3 linked regions of the Homo sapiens genome follow. The protein of the gene in region 1 interacts with the protein of each later gene in a biochemical or structural test. Each region holds a gene or a part of one and is shown in the gene's direction. Other genes may lie near its edges.

Region 1 (7,339 bases):
TGAGTTGGTGGAAGTTGTAAGAGCTAACACTTCTGGGTATTCAGAGGTGGCTTTACTGTAACACTAAAGCAGCTTAAACATCGGGGACCCCATTTGTGCTCCTTCTAAAGCCACACACCTCATTTTTTGTGTTTCTTTTCTCAAAGCGAGCTCTCAAATTGTCATAAGCTTCAGGTCTGACAAGACTCAAGGCCAACCCGGGAGGATTATATTGTTCAATCTGCATAGTAACCTTGGGAAGTCAAGGGCACTTTATCCCCCCTACCTTACAGACAAGGACACTTAGAGCACAAAAAAGCCTTCCTTAGATTTCTTGAAAATTCTGGGCCAGGGCCAGGCATGGTGGCTCACGCCTGTGTAATCCCAACACTTTGGCAGGCCAGGGCAGGTGGATCACTGGAGGTAATGAGTTTGAGACCAGCCTGGCCAACATGGTAAAACCCCATCTCTACTAAAAATACAAAAAAAAAAAAAAAATTAGCCAGGCGTAGTGGCGGGCATCTATAATCCCAGTTACTCGGGAGGCTGAGGCAGAATCGCTTGAACCTGGGAGGCAGAGGTTGCAGTGAGCTAAGATCGCGCTACTGCACTCCAGCCTGGATGACAGAGTGAGACTCTGTCCCCCACCCCCCCCCAAAAAAAGAGAATTCTGGGTTGGGCGCGGTGGCTCACGCCTGTAATCCCAGCACTTTGGGAGGCTGAGGCATGTGGATCATGAGGCCAGGAGTTCAAGACCAGCCTGGCCAAGATGGTGAAATCCTGTCTCTACTGAAAACACAAAAATTAGCCGGGCGTGGTGGTGGATGCCTGTAATCCCAGCTACTCTGGAGGCTGAGGCAGATAATTGCTTGGACCCAGGAGGTGGAGGTTGCAGTGAGCCGAGATTGCACCACTGAACTCCAGCCTGGGAGACAGAGCGAGACTCCATCTCAAAAAAAAAAAAAATTCTGAATTTGCCCTGGCCTCAGCACCTTTGCATCTTCTGTGCCCCCTAGGCTTCTCCTCGTCCCATCTCTGACAAGCCTTCACTAACCACTCACCTCTGGGAATGCTTTCCTTCCCTGCCTCCCAGGTCATCTCTCTGTGCCTTGCCTTTTGTGTTCTCTGTAGCACTCACTCTTAAGAATTATCATTTGTGCACCGATTTTGATTTAATAACTCCATGTAGTTCTTATTCCGTAGCCAGGCAGTTCTTTTTTTTTCTTTGGAGACCGAGTCTTGCTCTGTTGCCCAGGCTGGAGTGCAGTGGCGCAATCTTGGCTCACTGCAATCTCCACCTCCCAGGTTCAAGTGATTCTCCTGCCTCAGCCCCCCAAGTAGCTGGGACTAGAGGTGTGCACTACCATGCGTGGTTAGTTTTTGTATTTTTAGCAGAGATGAGGTTTCTCCATGTTGGCCAGGCTGGTCTTGAACTCCTGACCTTAGGCAATCCCCAGGCACTCTTCTTCACAAGTTCTAAGTGCTTTATAAACTATCAAATCATGTAATCCTCACAACCACTATGATGTCAACACTTTTTAATCCCCATTTGAAGATGGAGGCAACTGAAGTACAGAGAGGTTGTGCAAGTTGCTTAAAGTCACACAGCTGAGAGTTTAGGTATCATCTGTTTCAGTAGAAAAGGTTCCTGTGAGCAGAAGCTTCATCTGGAGCTGCCCTGGTCACTGCTACAGTCCTGCACCCAGAGCAGTGCAACACACTTTAAAAAAAGGTGTGTGGGAAATGGGACCTGGCTACGCAGAGATAAGCTGCTGGGGAGAAGATGGAAGGCCTGGAAAGGCCACTGCTGGTCAGGTGGGCAGCAGCGTGGTGGCCTTGAGACAGTGCCAAGAAGAAATGAAAGGTGTCCTTGACAGAATGGATGTAGATGAATAAGAGAGGCAGCCAAGGCCTCAGAGGAACCTTTGACCCCGCTTTCCTTCATGCTCCCTCCAAAATGCATCCAGAATCCAATTCCTGTCCCCTCCTCTGCTCCCATCCTGGCTCCCTGGGATTACTACCACAGCCTCCTAAGAGGTATCCCTGCTCTCACCCTCCCCTCTTCCTCCACACAGCAGCCAGAGGGATCCTGAGAAAACTAAAATCATGTCACTTCTCTGCTCAAAACCTGCCAATGTGTTCAGGAGTAGCAATGGCCTCTAACCTTGCAGGACCTGGCCCCTGCTTCCTCTCGGCAGCTGTGCCTCCTGCCATCCTGGCTACCCTGAGGCAGCTCCCACCCCAGGCCCTTTGCACTGGCTGTTCCATAGGCCTGCAAGGTTCCCCCCTACATTTCCATGGATCTCACTCCCTTGCTTTCTTCAAGTCTTTTCTCACCGTGCCCCACAATTGAAAATGCAAAACCGCTGGGCACGGTGGCTCACGTCTGTAATCCCAGCACTTTGGGAGGCCGAGGCGGGGGGGGGGGGGGATCACTTGAGGTCAGTAGTCTTGAGACCAGCCTGGTCAACATGGTGAAACCCCGCCTCTACTAAAAATAAAAAAATTAGCCGGGCGCGGTGGCGCACACATGTAATCCCAGCTAACTGGTAGGCTGAGGCAGGATAATTGCTTGAACCCAGGAGGCAGAGGTTGCAGGGAGCCGAGATTGCCCCACTGCACTCTAGCCTGGGAGACAGAGCGAGAGTTTAAGACCAGCCTGGACAACATGGCGAAATCCATCTATACAAAAAAAAAAACAAAAAAAAAAAACCCAGAAAAATTAGCTAGGCGTAATGGTGCTTGCCTGTAACCCCAGGTACTTGGGAGGCTGAGGTGGGAGGATGGCTTGAGCTCAGGAGGTTGAGGCTGCAATGAGCTGTGATGGCGCCACTGCACTCCAGCCTGGGAGACAGTGAGATTCGACTCCGTCTCAAAAAAAAAAAAAAAAAAAAAAAAAAAAAAGCAGGCGGTTAGATTGCACAGGCCCTGAACCCCATCCTAAAGCCTCCAGCACTTTCAAGTGAGGGATTACCAGGTTTGCGGATCTGCTGCAACTTGGCTGCAGTGTCCAAAATGGGTGGGGCAGGTGGAATTAAAGATGAGGCTGTGGAGACAAGCTACTGGCAGAGAGGACACACTTTAAACCCTGGGAAGATATCATTACCCAGAGAGGGGGAAGGATGAGGACACTGCAGAGCCCAACATCATCGCCAGACCCGAGTCATGCGGCTCCTTTGTTCCAGGAACCAAGGCTGACCCTAGAAGCAATAGCAGCATTTTCACTCCGCAGGTGCATCTCTTCCACGCTTTGGGGTGCCTGCCCTGCCTCCGACTTCTGGGGCTGGGATTTAAGGCCCTACCAGGGCACAGCTCGCCAGCTCACAGGCGGTCAACTACTGATTCAGTTCTTCGTCTCCTTCACTCCTTTACATCGGACTCACGAGGGCTGAGGGGCAGCTCCCTTTCGTTAAGTGCTTCCCGCGTGCTCAACACCGCACGAATTCCCCTCGGCCCTACAGGACCAAACGACCGGCGCGCTGAGAAAGGGTGTGCGGTTCCACTGAGGACGCCCAAGCGGGACAGCCGGGCCCGCCGCGGTGAGATCCCCGGCCTGTCCAGCCCAAGCCCAAGCGCCCTCGCGGTCACGTGGCATTTCCGGAACATTCAGAACCTAACAGCCAGGAGGCAGGAGGGCCGGGCCGAGGCCGGAGCGCTGGACAACGCGGGTAGCTGGCGCTCGAGGGACAGGCAGCTCCCACCGGCTAGGACCCCCATCCCGATGCGCGGGCGAAGGGCTGGGGCCCTGTGCCGCTGGCGATCCCGGGGACCGCCTGGAACTCGCGGCACTCGGGAGCGAGAGGGAAAGCAACCCAGAGGCCCCGCAGCCGCCGGCGACACAGCTACAGACCCCGACTGCAGCCGGTACTCCCATATATCAGGGGCGGGGCGAAACCCGGCCTTTTGAAGGGCAGCGATTTAAACCAATCAGCGCAAAGAGTTGGCAACCCTCCGCCCAATTGGAATCGCTCTCATTCTGAAGGCGGTTCCGACATGGAGTCCGGCAGCCCAATGGGAGAGGTGGAAATTTCCAGAACGATCAGAACCAATGGGCGCGGCCAGCGCGGCTACGATTGGCAGTGCAAAAGACCAATCCGTGTCGCAGAAGTTCGCTCCTCCCTCCATTCGTGGAGCCTGAGATGGGTGGGTTTATAGAGGAGCGCCCAATCCTGAGGTGCGGGGGAGGCAGGGTTGAGGGAATTACTCCCCGCTGTCCAATGAGAAGGAAGTGGAGATGATGGGCTGGACCTCAAGCCAATAGTAGAGCAGCACAGACATTCCCCCTAGAAGAACTCGACCAGTGAGCAGGCGAGGAAGGGGCGGGAGCCGGGGTCCCGGTAGCTTCTAGTAGGTTCCAGAAGGCGGCGCGTGCGGTTGGGAACGCGGAGCGGACGGATTCGATTCAACGGGGTTCCGGACCGCGCTGCGCTATGGAGCAGGTGAAGGGGGAGGGGCGGGCTGAGGCCCCGAGCCTGCTCGGGGACCGGCGGTGGCCAGGCCGCGGTAGGGGGGCGGGGCGGGCGCCGGATCCAGGAGACCGGAGCTCGGCGCTGGGGCCGGACGGGGCGGCGGCGGGGAGGTGAGGGCCGCGGGCGGCGGGCGGGAGCGGGATCTTTAGCGAGGCCGGCCGCGGGGAGCGCCCATCGCCCCCTGGTTGGGCGAGGAGGGCCCGGCGGAGGCCACAGCTTGGGTGAGTCCGGCCGGCGGCGGGAAGAGGGGTCGCGACCGGGCCCTGAAGGCGTCCCGAGGGGGCGGCTGCGGGCCATGTTGGGGAGGGTGCGGGCCGCAGGGGGCGGGGTGGAGGTGGGCCGGGGGCCGGGGTCCGCACCCGCGAGGTAGCCCTCCGGGAGATCTCAGACGGCCGACGGAGAAACCGCTCGGGACTTAGCCACGAGGAACTTGGACGGATCCAGGGAGCGGGGACGGGGATACACTGGGAGTAGCCGAGGATCTTAGCAGCCTGGGATGCAGTTGGGGCAAATGTTACTCTTCTACATCTGAGAAGGTCAGGGTGGGAGAGCGTTGAGCGGGGGTCTGAGGAGCGACAGACCGACTCTACCTGATGCGGGAAAGGGAAGGGTGCCGCAAAAGTCCTTGGGACGAATTCCATCTCTGACAGTGTTTTACAAATGTATTGCGGCCCCTCCCCCTCTTTTTGTATGCTTGTGTGTGTGATTGTCGAGTGACCGAGGACCAACACTTCCGAAAGGTGGGTCTGAAAGATGGGTTTCTGACGACCCGGGGGTGGTTGTAGACAATTTACAGAGATCAACCGCTGGAAGTTATGGGCCTCTACTGAGCATTTGAGGGGCCGAGTTTGAAGCGGTTGCTGCTTCCTTTCAGTGACTTGGTTATGTCCTCAGTAGCTTGCGGTTATGAAAGGCCTAGAGGTTTTGTTCGATTTGAAGCTGTCATTGAGCTGTAATGATTCATCGGAAGAAAAAGGACAAAACAACCTCCAAGAAACCTCTACCAACCTCCGAGAAATCATCCTCCCGCTCGGGAGTACTACTGTCTTCGCTCCGGGCCCATAACACTTGGGGGTGACAATTCTGAAACTATACCTGGTATCTGGTTCTTACTTCAGGGCCATAAAACTAAGATCGCCCACACTCTCCCCTTAAATAAGACATCTCGATGGACTAGTGACTACCATCCTTTTTTTGGTGTGAGCTACAGAGCTGAGCCTTTGGTCTCTTGTAGCAGTTGCTGCTTTAGGCAAAGCTCGAGCTTCCTTGCTGTATTAAAAAGAGTGGAAATGAAGTTAGTAAACTTTTTTGTGCCCATATAATATTTCAGTTGTATCTAGGGTTAAATGGGCTGTAGTATAGGTGAGGAAAAGATTTCTGGAATAAGACGTTGCTCTTTTACCTTTAAGAAAGGATCTGGGGCCGGGCACCGTGGCTCAGCCTGTAATCCCAGCACTTTGGGAGGCCGAGGCAGGCGGATCACGAGGTCAGGAGATCGAGACCATCCTGGCTAGCACAGTGAAACCCCGTCTCTACTAAAAATACAGAAGAAAAATTAGCCGGGCGTGGTGGCGGGAGCCTGTAGTCCCAGCTACTCGGGAGGCTGAGGCAGGAGAATGACGTGAACCCTGGGGGCAGCTTGCAGTGAGCCGAGATTGCGCCACTGCACTCCAGCCTGGGCCATAGAGCGAGACTCCGTCTCCCTCCAGCCTGGGCCACAGAGCGAGACTCCGTCTCAAAAAAAAAAAAAAAAAAAAGGATCTCGGCTGGGCGCAGTGGCTCACGCTTATAATCCTAGCACTTTGGGAGGCCAAGGTGGGCGAATCACCTGAGGTCAGGAGTTCTACACCAGCCTGGCCAACATGGTGAAACCCCCTCTCTACTAAAAGTACAAAAATTAGCGGGTCATGGCGCAGGCCTGTAATCCCAGCTATTGGAGAGGCTGAGATAGGAGAATTGCTTCAACCCGGGAGGCGTAGGTTGCAGTGAGCTGTGATCACGCCACTGCACTCTAGCCTGGGTGACAGAGTGAGACTCCATCTCAAAAAAAAAAAAAAAAGAAAAGAAACGATTTCTGTTACCAAATTTATTTTGTATTTTTTTTAGAGACAGGGTCTGGTTCTGTGGCCCAGGCTGAAGTGCCCTGGTGGGATCATAGCTCACTGCAGCCTCAAGTTCCTGGCCTCAAGCGATCCTCCTGCCTCACTCTCCTGAGTAGCTGGGCACACCACCACAACTGGCTAATTTTAACATTTTTTGTAGAGACGGGGCTCTTGCTGTTTCCCAGGCTGGTCTCGAATTTCTAGGCTCAAGCAATCCTCTAGCCTTGGCCTCCCACTTCATTAGCACTAGGATTACAGGCGTGAGTCACCTTGCCTGGTCTTAAAATGTTTGTTTTTAAATTACCACTACTGGTGATAGAAGTGTATGTACAGGTAGGTAGATGGTGAATGAATATTTGACTTAGGACAGCAAACTGGCATGGCAGCTGTACAGATGACCTGGCATTTAATCCCAGGTGTGTTTGAGCCCACCATCTGGAAGCCATTCCTGAAAACAAACACGATTTCTCTACCTTTTGTTTTCATTTTCAACTGTGAGGTTTGTATTTCAGTTTAGAAAATACTCAAGTTGGGCCGGGTGCAGTGGCTCACACTTGTAATCCCAGCACTTTGGGAGGCCGAGGTGGGCGGATCATGAGGTCAGGAGTTTGAGACCAACCTGTCCAGCATGGTGAAACCCCGTCTCTAGTAAAAATACAAAAGAAAAAAGAAAAACTGGGCCGGGCGTGCTGGCTCACGCCTGTAATCCCAACACTTTGGGAGGTTGAGGCGGGTGGATCACGAGGTCAGGAGCTCAAGACCAGCCTGGCCAATATGGTGAAACCCTGT
Region 2 (7,034 bases), on another chromosome or scaffold:
AAAGTAACTTCCTTTTCATTTTTTTAGTGGCATAGTCTAAAACTGCTCACAATCCTTTTGAAAGACTAAAGAATAGGCCAGGTGTGGTGGCTCATGCCTGTAATCCCAGCACTTTGGGAGGCCAAGGCAGGCGGATCACAAGGTCAGGAGTTCAAGACCAGCCTGGCCAACATAGTGAAACGCTGTCTCTACTAAAAATACAAAAAAAAATAGCTGGGCTTGGTGGCGGCCACCTGTAGTCCCCAGCTACTCGGGAGGCTGAGGCAGGAGAATCGCTGGAACCCGGGAGGCGGAGGTTGCAGTGAGCTGAGATGGCGCCATTGCACTCCAGCCCTGGAGACAGTGCGAGACTGTGTCTCAAAAAAAAAAAAAAAAAAAAAAAAAAAAAAGACTAAAGAATATTAGCACCAAAGAACATAGCCCAGAAGCCTTGCTGTACTACACCTGCTGAAGGGACGGATGGAAATGCTGCAGAGCAGCACTAGGCAGTGCTCAGGCACTGCCCCAAACCAGCCCACAGGCCATCGAGGCCTCCAAGGGAGTGGGAAAGGTACCTGGAGAGCCATCTCCAGAAGGAAAGAAAGAAACCAGCTGTACCAGGGTTTGCTGGAGGGGTTGCTTCACTTTGAGGATTTGCTTTTCTTTTGTACCCCCTCAAGAGCTGAGTACAAGTAATGACGCTTTTTTATCCTAGGGAGGCAAATACATGCAGGCGGTGATTCAGTATGGGAAGATAGTGTCCTGGTTAGAGATGGAATATGGTTTATCAGAAAAGGAATCGAAAGCTTCTGAATCATTTCTCCTTGCTGCCTTTCTGAACCTGGCCATGTGCTACCTGAAGCTTAGAGAATACACCAAAGCTGTTGAATGCTGTGACAAGGTAACATCGTGTCTCCTGTGAGATGGACTTTAGATACTCCAGATCTTTTCTCCATCTCTGTCTTTTGCTTCCTCTCAGCCAAAGGTTGCAGGATTTTTCATTTTGCTTTTTTTTATTTATTTGAATGTTTGGGATTATTTGTTTCTCAGTATGAATTGGGAAATTCAGCAAGATTTTTATTACAGTCAGACTTTTATGATACCTAGACTGTTTATCATAATGCATTCTGAAGAAAAGTTTTGATTAAAATTAAATAATTTTTATCCACGACCTTCCTTATAACTGTAGTATTTATATCAGAGTAGACGTATAACTCCTCAGGTTCAGTTTAATAAGAGAAGATTTAACTTAAGCTTTTCTGGACTTTAACAGACTGCAACTGTTCATATAAAGCATATATATAGGTCAATTTTTATTATAATCATTTATTCACTGATATGCATAAATAATATGAAAGGTCCACAGAGCATCAGCAGCCTTTTTATTTTTACATTTGTCTTATTAATACTATCTTTGGTCTTTTGAGTGCTTACACACAGTACTCTATAACAGTGGTTTATCATCTGTATCGTTATGTATCGTTCTGATATATTTATACACCAGCCGATACTATTTTAGGTATCTGGTCTCAGAGTGAACAGTATATATTATACTGTGGGTAAAAGTAAAAACTAATCATTGGATGTATCTTAAAGGTAGACATAAAAGGATAAGAAAAGCAAGGCAACTATTTTGTACATTCTTTGTGAGATTATTTTTGAATTTTGTGGATCAGTGTTTCCTATCGCATCCTCTCTCCCAAGACCAGTTATTAATTTTATATGTATTTTTTCGTTTTTTTCATACAGAGCGGAGAGAGAGAGAGAGAGAGTGTGTGCGCGCGCGCGTGTGTGTGTTTTGTTTGTTTTAGAGACAAGTTGTTGCTATTTTGCCCAGGCTGGGGTGCGGTGGCTATTAATACACATGAACATAATGTACTACAGCCTCAAACTCTGGGGCCCAAGCTATCCTCCCACCTCAGCCTCCTGAGTAGCTGGGACTACAAGTGCATGCCACCACACCCTGCTAATTTTTAAATTTACTTTTGTAGAGATGGGGGTCTTCCAAAGAGCTGGGATTAAAGTTGTGAGGTACCACACCCAGCACAGCCTTGACTACATTATTTTTCTGTCTTCTATTGACAGAAGCAGTCATATAGCATCACTATTAACCCTATCTTTGGCAATAGGAAGCCTGTTCTCCTTATTTTCCTCTTTTTTTTTTTTTTGGAGATGGAGTCTTTCTCTGTTACCCAGTCTGGAGTGCAATGGCACAATCTTGGCTCACTCTAACCTCCACCTCCCGAGTTCAAGCGATTCTCCTGCCTCAGCCTCCCAAGTAGCTTAGACCACAGGTGCCGACCACCACACCAGGCTAATTTTTGTATTTTTAGTAGAGACAGGGTTTCACCATGTTGGCCCGGCTGGTTTCCAATTCCTGACCTCAGGTGATTTGCCACCTCAGCTTCCCAAAGTGCTGGGATTACAGGTGTGAGCCACCACAACCCAGCAATTTTCTTTTAGCTTTGTTGATTATATCTTTCTCTTTAAAGAAGGTTTTAATGTTTATGTAGTCAGATTTGTCGTCTCCTTTCTAGTTAGAAAAGACTTCCCCACACCAAGATTATAAAAATAACTGAAGCCAGGCACAGTGGTTTACACCTGTGACCTGTAACCCCAGGACTTTCGGAGGCTGAGGCGAGAGGATTGCCTGAGCCCAGGAGATAGAGGCTGCAGTGAGCTGTGATTGAGCCACTGCCCTCCAGCCTGGGCGACAGAGTGAGACCCTGCCTCAAAAAAATAATGATTATATTTTACATATTTTAAAATAAAAAATAATTGAAACATTTTATGGTTTTTTTTAATATGTAAATATGGTTGATCTAGAATTTACTTTTGTGCTTACAATATGAGGTAAGAACTTTTTTTTTTTTTTTTTTTTGGAGACAAGAGTCTCACTCTGTCACCCAGCCTGGAGTGCAGTGGCACGATCTCAGCCCACTCCAACCTCCACCTCCCTGGTTCAAGCAATTCTCCTGCCTCAGCCTCCCAAGTAGCTGGGATTACAGGCGCCTGCCACCATGCCCAGCTAATTTTTGTATTTTCAGTAGAGACAGGATTTCGCCATGTTGGCCAGGCTGGTCTCGAACTCCTCACCTCAGGTGATCACCTGCCTCAGCCTCCCAAAGTGCTGGGATTAGGGTGTGAACCACTGCACCCGGCCTTAACTCTTATTTTCTATGTGGATAGCTGCCATCCTGGCCCCGTTTATTTTAAAGTTAACTCTCCACTGATTCACATTACCACCTTTGTCATTTTCAAATGTTTTTATATGCAGACACATGACTGTTTCTGAATGATTCGTTCTGTTCCACTGAGCTGTTTGTCCACATGCTAGTAACCAAACTGTCTTAATTTCAGTAGTTTTAAAGTTTGTCTTTTTCTCTGGTAAGACAAGTGCCTCTTATTTTTTTCTTTTTTCCCAAATTTTTTCAGCCATTCTTGGGCACTTATTTGTTCCAATGAACTTTAAAATGAACTTCTCAAGAGCCCCCTCTCAAATCTCCTTGGGATCTTTCTAGAAATTGCATTAAATGCAGAAAATAATTTGGGTAGTAAATTTTGATCAGTAGTATGTAATTATCTTGAGCCCCATTTTTTTAAATACACTTTTTCCATCTCCTTTGGCAAGAGAACTTTGGTAAGCTGTTTACTGAATTTATTAAAATTCGTCCTTTCTAAAATATAGACCATCTATTCCTAGGCCCTTGGACTGGACAGTGCCAATGAGAAAGGCTTGTATAGGAGGGGTGAAGCCCAGCTGCTCATGAACGAGTTTGAGTCAGCCAAGGGTGACTTTGAGAAAGTGCTGGAAGTAAACCCCCAGAATAAGGCTGCAAGACTGCAGATCTCCATGTGCCAGAAAAAGGCCAAGGAGCACAACGAGCGGGACCGCAGGATATACGCCAACATGTTCAAGAAGTTTGCAGAGCAGGATGCCAAGGTGTGTGCAGAGCCTGATGACTGCAGGTGGATCAAGAGCCTGACCATGCCCCTTTGATTTTAGGGGACAGGAACAGCTAAACAACCCAAGAGGCTCAAGAGCAGGGAAAACGATTTCCAATCTAATCTGAGGCTGCTTTGGATCCAAAGGTCGAGTAGGGCAGTTCCAGTCACCAAAGGCACACGTCATGAGAGATGAGAAAACTAAATTCCCTTCAGATGTATTAGATTGGTTCAAAAGTAATTGTGGTTTTTACCATTACTTTCAATGGCAAAAACAGCAATTTTGCACCAACTCCCCCCGCCCGCCCCCCGGGCCCCTGCCCGAGTCAGAGTCTCACTCTGTCACCCAGACTGTAATGCAGTCGTGCTAACATGGCTCACTGCAGCCTTGACTTCTCTGGATCAAGTGATCCTCCCACCTCAGCCTCCTGAGTAGCTAGGACAAGCACACTACCACACTGGGCTAATTTTTTAAAATTTTTTGTAAAGATAGGGTTTCACTTTGTTGTCTAGGCTGGTCTCGAACCCCTGGCTTCAAGGGTTCCTCCTGCTTTGGTCTCCCAAAGTGCTGGGATTATAGACATGAGCCACCATGCCCAGCCCTTTTGTCATTTTTGAAAAATTGTAAACCCATCAGGATTTTTTTTTCAAGTAAGACTTACGATTTTCCCAGGAAATGGGATGTTATAGGAGCCCCATCATCACACCTGTTATCTTGAGGGTCGGCAGCCAGCCTGAAAAATGTGGCAGGAGAGGTCTGTCTGCAGAGAGGGCGGCCTCCCTACAGCATAGTTGGCATTCTGGTCCTGTCCCCAGTCTCCAGGAATGCCCAGACTTCATTATCCCACAGCTGTCCCATGTGTCAACCAAAGAAAGGTGAAGCTCCCACTCTAACTATTGGTAGCACAGCCCTGACCTACCCAGCTAGATATCCTAGAGAAAATCATTGCAATACCTCGTGTTTGGGACCTGATACACAGTCTGGAGGAGCCAGGAATTATTTCACTTCTTTATTCTCTAACCTTCTTGATTGCTTATTTCTTCCTTAGGAAGAGGCCAATAAAGCAATGGGCAAGAAGACTTCAGAAGGGGTCACTAATGAAAAAGGAACAGACAGTCAAGCAATGGAAGAAGAGAAACCTGAGGGCCACGTATGACGCCACGCCAAGGAGGGAAGAGTCCCAGTGAACTCGGCCCCTCCTCAATGGGCTTTCCCCCAACTCAGGACAGAACAGTGTTTAATGTAAAGTTTGTTATAGTCTATGTGATTCTGGAAGCAAATGGCAAAACCAGTAGCTTCCCAAAAACAGCCCCCCTGCTGCTGCCCGGAGGGTTCACTGAGGGGTGGCACGGGACCACTCCAGGTGGAACAAACAGAAATGACTGTGGTGTGGAGGGAGTGAGCCAGCAGCTTAAGTCCAGCTCATTTCAGTTTCTATCAACCTTCAAGTATCCAATTCAGGGTCCCTGGAGATCATCCTAACAATGTGGGGCTGTTAGGTTTTACCTTTGAACTTTCATAGCACTGCAGAAACCTTTAAAAAAAAAATGCTTCATGAATTTCTCCTTTCCTACAGTTGGGTAGGGTAGGGGAAGGAGGATAAGCTTTTGTTTTTTAAATGACTGAAGTGCTATAAATGTAGTCTGTTGCATTTTTAACCAACAGAACCCACAGTAGAGGGGTCTCATGTCTCCCCAGTTCCACAGCAGTGTCACAGACGTGAAAGCCAGAACCTCAGAGGCCACTTGCTTGCTGACTTAGCCTCCTCCCAAAGTCCCCCTCCTCAGCCAGCCTCCTTGTGAGAGTGGCTTTCTACCACACACAGCCTGTCCCTGGGGGAGTAATTCTGTCATTCCTAAAACACCCTTCAGCAATGATAATGAGCAGATGAGAGTTTCTGGATTAGCTTTTCCTATTTTCGATGAAGTTCTGAGATACTGAAATGTGAAAAGAGCAATCAGAATTGTGCTTTTTCTCCCCTCCTCTATTCCTTTTAGGGAATAATATTCAATACACAGTACTTCCTCCCAGCATTGCTACTGCTCAGCTTCTTCTTTCATTCTAATCCTTGCTATTAAGAATTTAAGACTTGTGCTTACAATATTTTTGACCTGGAGTGGATCTATTTACATAGTCATTTAGGATCCATGCAGCTTTTTTTGTCTTTTTAAGATTATTGGCTCATAAGCATATGTATACTGGTTTATGGAACTTTATTTACACTCCTCTATCATGCAAAAAAATTTTGACTTTTTAGTACTAAGCTTAATTTTTAAAAACAAAATCTGTAGGGTTGACAAATAAATAGTTGCTCTTCTACACTAGGGGTTTCACCTGCAGGTTTGACACGCAGTTGCTCGCTTTTCCTGCCCTGTCAAGCTTCTCTGTTCTGGCGTGAGTTGTGAAAGAGTTGAAGACAGCTTCCCATGCCGGTACACAGCCAGTAGCCTAAATCTCCAGTACTTGAGCTGACCATTGAACTAGGGCAAGTCTTAAATGTGTACATGTAGTTGAATTTCAGTCCTTACGGGTAAACAGATTGAGCATGGCTCTCTATTCCCTCAGCCTAAGAAACACTCATGGGAATGCATTTGGCAACCCAAGGAACCATTTGCTTAAACCTGGAACATCTCACCTTTTTAAATCCTAAAAAACACTGGCAGTTATATTTTAAATTAGTTTTTATTTTTATGATGGTTTTATCAAAAGACTTTTATTATTAGATTGGGACCCCCTTCAAACCTAAAAATCAAGTTATTTCCTTTTATAATACTTTTCTTCCCCATGGAACAAATGGGATCAATTTGTGAGTTTTTTCCTTTAATGATAACTAAAATCCCTCTAATTTCTCATTTATGCTTTTGTCTTTTTTATGAAATATTTCTTTTAAAAGCCCCAGTCTCACCTACGAAATATGAAGAGCAAAAGCTGATTTTGCTTACTTGCTAAACTGTTGGGAAAGCTCTGTAGAGCATGGTTCCAGTGAGGCCAAGATTGAAATTTGATACTAAAAAGGCCACCTAGCTTTTTGCAGATAACAAACAAGAAAGCTATTCCAAGACTCAGATGATGCCAGCTGTCTCCCACGTGTGTATTATGGTTCACCAGG
Region 3 (3,837 bases), on another chromosome or scaffold:
TTACATAGTACCAGTTTTGTCCTTGGAATGACTCAGTGCATTTGGTTTATATTTTTTTCAGACTTCATTAGAGGGGTGGTAGACTCGGAGGATCTCCCTCTAAACATATCCCGTGAGATGTTGCAACAAAGCAAAATTTTGAAAGTTATCAGGAAGAATTTGGTCAAAAAATGCTTAGAACTCTTTACTGAACTGGCGGAAGATAAAGAGAACTACAAGAAATTCTATGAGCAGTTCTCTAAAAACATAAAGGTTGGTGTAAATAACCATTAGTTTTCCAATTGGCCTCTTTAGTTTTTTTTTTTTTTTTTTAATTCAGAAAGTCTTTGTAAAGAACATACTTTGTTTCAGCTTGGAATACACGAAGACTCTCAAAATCGGAAGAAGCTTTCAGAGCTGTTAAGGTACTACACATCTGCCTCTGGTGATGAGATGGTTTCTCTCAAGGACTACTGCACCAGAATGAAGGAGAACCAGAAACATATCTATTATATCACAGGTAAGAGAACACTATGTTACAGTCATACACGTCGTTCTTACAATCTTGTAGGCTCTGTGGGTGTGTTTTCTACTCAGGTAGCACTGTTACAACTGGTATTGATCTAGGCAAGATAATTAACATGAACTAGGTCATTTTCTGTCTTAGGTTCTGCCTAGGTATCTGGCTAGCAAGAAAAGTCAGAGCTAGATGAAACCATTCTTAACTGTTAAAAGGTCTAAAAGTAACTTTGTAATACCTCAGGTGAGACCAAGGACCAGGTAGCTAACTCAGCCTTTGTGGAACGTCTTCGGAAACATGGCTTAGAAGTGATCTATATGATTGAGCCCATTGATGAGTACTGTGTCCAACAGCTGAAGGAATTTGAGGGGAAGACTTTAGTGTCAGTCACCAAAGAAGGCCTGGAACTTCCAGAGGATGAAGAAGAGAAAAAGAAGCAGGAAGAGAAAAAAACAAAGTTTGAGAACCTCTGCAAAATCATGAAAGACATATTGGAGAAAAAAGTTGAAAAGGTATGTGAATACAGCATTTCCTGATCATTGATACTTCTAAGGTGCTTTCAAGCTTAGTCATACATAGCCCATTTTCGCATGTTTTCAACTTAAAACAGAAAACTATGTTGTGTGTGGCTGGGCGCGGTGGCTCACGCCTGCAATCCCAGCACTTTGGGAGGCTGAGGCAGCGGATCACAAGGTCAGGAGATCGAGACCATCCTGGCTAACACGGTGAAACTCAGTCTCTACTAAAAATAGAAAAAAATAAACCAGGCGTGGTGGCACGGCCTGTAATCCTAGCCACTTGGGAGGCTGAGGCAGGAGAATCGCCTGAACCCAGGAGGCGGAGGTTGCAGTGAGCCAAGATCGCACCACTGCACTCCAGCCTGGGTGATGGAGCGAGACTCTATCTCAAAAAAAAAATTGTGCATGTAAAACATGAAATTATAACCTGTGCTCTTTGGATACCTAATGCGACATTTAAGTTGTATTTGACAGTAGATAGTATTTTGGATCTATTGAAATTTGGGTTCTACAGATTTCATTTCACAATGAAAGTTTAGGAATTAATCTTTCTAGGTTCCTAGTCATCACTTTTTGATTACAGGTGGTTGTGTCAAACCGATTGGTGACATCTCCATGCTGTATTGTCACAAGCACATATGGCTGGACAGCAAACATGGAGAGAATCATGAAAGCTCAAGCCCTAAGAGACAACTCAACAATGGGTTACATGGCAGCAAAGAAACACCTGGAGATAAACCCTGACCATTCCATTATTGAGACCTTAAGGCAAAAGGCAGAGGCTGATAAGAACGACAAGTCTGTGAAGGATCTGGTCATCTTGCTTTATGAAACTGCGCTCCTGTCTTCTGGCTTCAGTCTGGAAGATCCCCAGACACATGCTAACAGGATCTACAGGATGATCAAACTTGGTCTGGGTAAGCCTTATACTATGTAATGTTAAAAAGAAAATAAACACACGTGACATTGAAGAAAATGGTGAACTTTCAGTTATCCAAACTTGGAGCACCTTGTCCTGCTTGCTGCTTGGAGGTATTAAAGTATGTTTTTTTTAGGGATAAGTAAGGTCTTACAAGAGCAAAGAAATGAAATTGAGACTCATATGTCCTGTAATACTGTCTTGAAAGCAGATAGAAACCAAGAGTATTACCCTAATAGCTGGCTTTAAGAAATCTTTGTAATATGAGGATTTTATTTTGGAAACAGGTATTGATGAAGATGACCCTACTGCTGATGATACCAGTGCTGCTGTAACTGAAGAAATGCCACCCCTTGAAGGAGATGACGACACATCACGCATGGAAGAAGTAGACTAATCTCTGGCTGAGGGATGACTTACCTGTTCAGTACTCTACAATTCCTCTGATAATATATTTTCAAGGATGTTTTTCTTTATTTTTGTTAATATTAAAAAGTCTGTATGGCATGACAACTACTTTAAGGGGAAGATAAGATTTCTGTCTACTAAGTGATGCTGTGATACCTTAGGCACTAAAGCAGAGCTAGTAATGCTTTTTGAGTTTCATGTTGGTTTATTTTCACAGATTGGGGTAACGTGCACTGTAAGACGTATGTAACATGATGTTAACTTTGTGGTCTAAAGTGTTTAGCTGTCAAGCCGGATGCCTAAGTAGACCAAATCTTGTTATTGAAGTGTTCTGAGCTGTATCTTGATGTTTAGAAAAGTATTCGTTACATCTTGTAGGATCTACTTTTTGAACTTTTCATTCCCTGTAGTTGACAATTCTGCATGTACTAGTCCTCTAGAAATAGGTTAAACTGAAGCAACTTGATGGAAGGATCTCTCCACAGGGCTTGTTTTCCAAAGAAAAGTATTGTTTGGAGGAGCAAAGTTAAAAGCCTACCTAAGCATATCGTAAAGCTGTTCAAAAATAACTCAGACCCAGTCTTGTGGATGGAAATGTAGTGCTCGAGTCACATTCTGCTTAAAGTTGTAACAAATACAGATGAGTTAAAAGATATTGTGTGACAGTGTCTTATTTAGGGGGAAAGGGGAGTATCTGGATGACAGTTAGTGCCAAAATGTAAAACATGAGGCGCTAGCAGGAGATGGTTAAACACTAGCTGCTCCAAGGGTTGACATGGTCTTCCCAGCATGTACTCAGCAGGTGTGGGGTGGAGCACACGTAGGCACAGAAAACAGGAATGCAGACAACATGCATCCCCTGCGTCCATGAGTTACATGTGTTCTCTTAGTGTCCACGTTGTTTTGATGTTATTCATGGAATACCTTCTGTGTTAAATACAGTCACTTAATTCCTTGGCCTTACAGTGTCTCAAAGTTCTTTACAAATCTACTTAAAGCCATCCTGGCTGAGGCAGGAGAATCGCTTGAACCTGGGAGGCGGAGGTTGCGGTGGGCTGGGATTGCACCATTGCGCTGCAGCCTGAGCAGCAAGAGCGAAACTCCATCTCAAAAAAAAGATGAAAAAATCAGCCCAATAGGTAAGAGTCCCTCTGGGGACTGGGGGTGGTAATGGCTAAATAAAAGTCTTCACTTCTGAAATTTGGTGGTTCTAGAGACAAAACTTGGTTAGATAGCATATAGGATTTGCATTCTGAGCCTAACGCCATATATAAAAATGATAGGAAATGCCTGGGACTTGGATATGTGACAGTGTCTAAGGGGGCAGTGCACAGGCAGGGAGAGACCTTGTCTCAGTCTCGTGCTAAGCAGGTATTGAATGCTTGGTAAATGGCAATCACGTTTAGTCCTTTAAATTCTCTGAAAAGTTCTTAATCCCCTTCGATAATATACAGGAGGAATTACGTAAATTGAGGTCTTAGTAGTGGCTGAAT

Evidence for each region.
Region 2: the proteins of STIP1 (region 1) and FKBP5 form a complex in vitro, tested with the Homo sapiens proteins (one study listed by BioGRID).
Region 3: the proteins of STIP1 (region 1) and HSP90AA1 form a complex in vitro, tested with the Homo sapiens proteins (9 studies listed by BioGRID).

Annotation. Positions count from the first base shown.
Region 1 is NC_000011.10:64,181,853-64,189,191, forward strand, and holds the start of STIP1 (stress-induced-phosphoprotein 1), read left to right. Parts: upstream 1-4,318; 5' UTR 4,319-4,409; coding exon 4,410-4,418; intron 4,419-7,339. UniProt on the Homo sapiens protein: Acts as a co-chaperone for HSP90AA1. Mediates the association of the molecular chaperones HSPA8/HSC70 and HSP90.
Region 2 is NC_000006.12:35,573,882-35,580,915, reverse strand, and holds part of FKBP5 (peptidyl-prolyl cis-trans isomerase FKBP5), read left to right. Parts: exon of another isoform or gene 1-359; intron 360-694; coding exon 695-880; intron 881-3,682; coding exon 3,683-3,922; intron 3,923-4,973; coding exon 4,974-5,081; 3' UTR 5,082-7,034. UniProt on the Homo sapiens protein: Immunophilin protein with PPIase and co-chaperone activities. Component of unligated steroid receptors heterocomplexes through interaction with heat-shock protein 90 (HSP90).
Region 3 is NC_000014.9:102,080,208-102,084,044, reverse strand, and holds the end of HSP90AA1 (heat shock protein HSP 90-alpha), read left to right. Parts: intron 1-61; coding exon 62-252; intron 253-351; coding exon 352-499; intron 500-742; coding exon 743-1,011; intron 1,012-1,600; coding exon 1,601-1,934; intron 1,935-2,223; coding exon 2,224-2,333; 3' UTR 2,334-3,303; downstream 3,304-3,837. UniProt on the Homo sapiens protein: Molecular chaperone that promotes the maturation, structural maintenance and proper regulation of specific target proteins involved for instance in cell cycle control and signal transduction.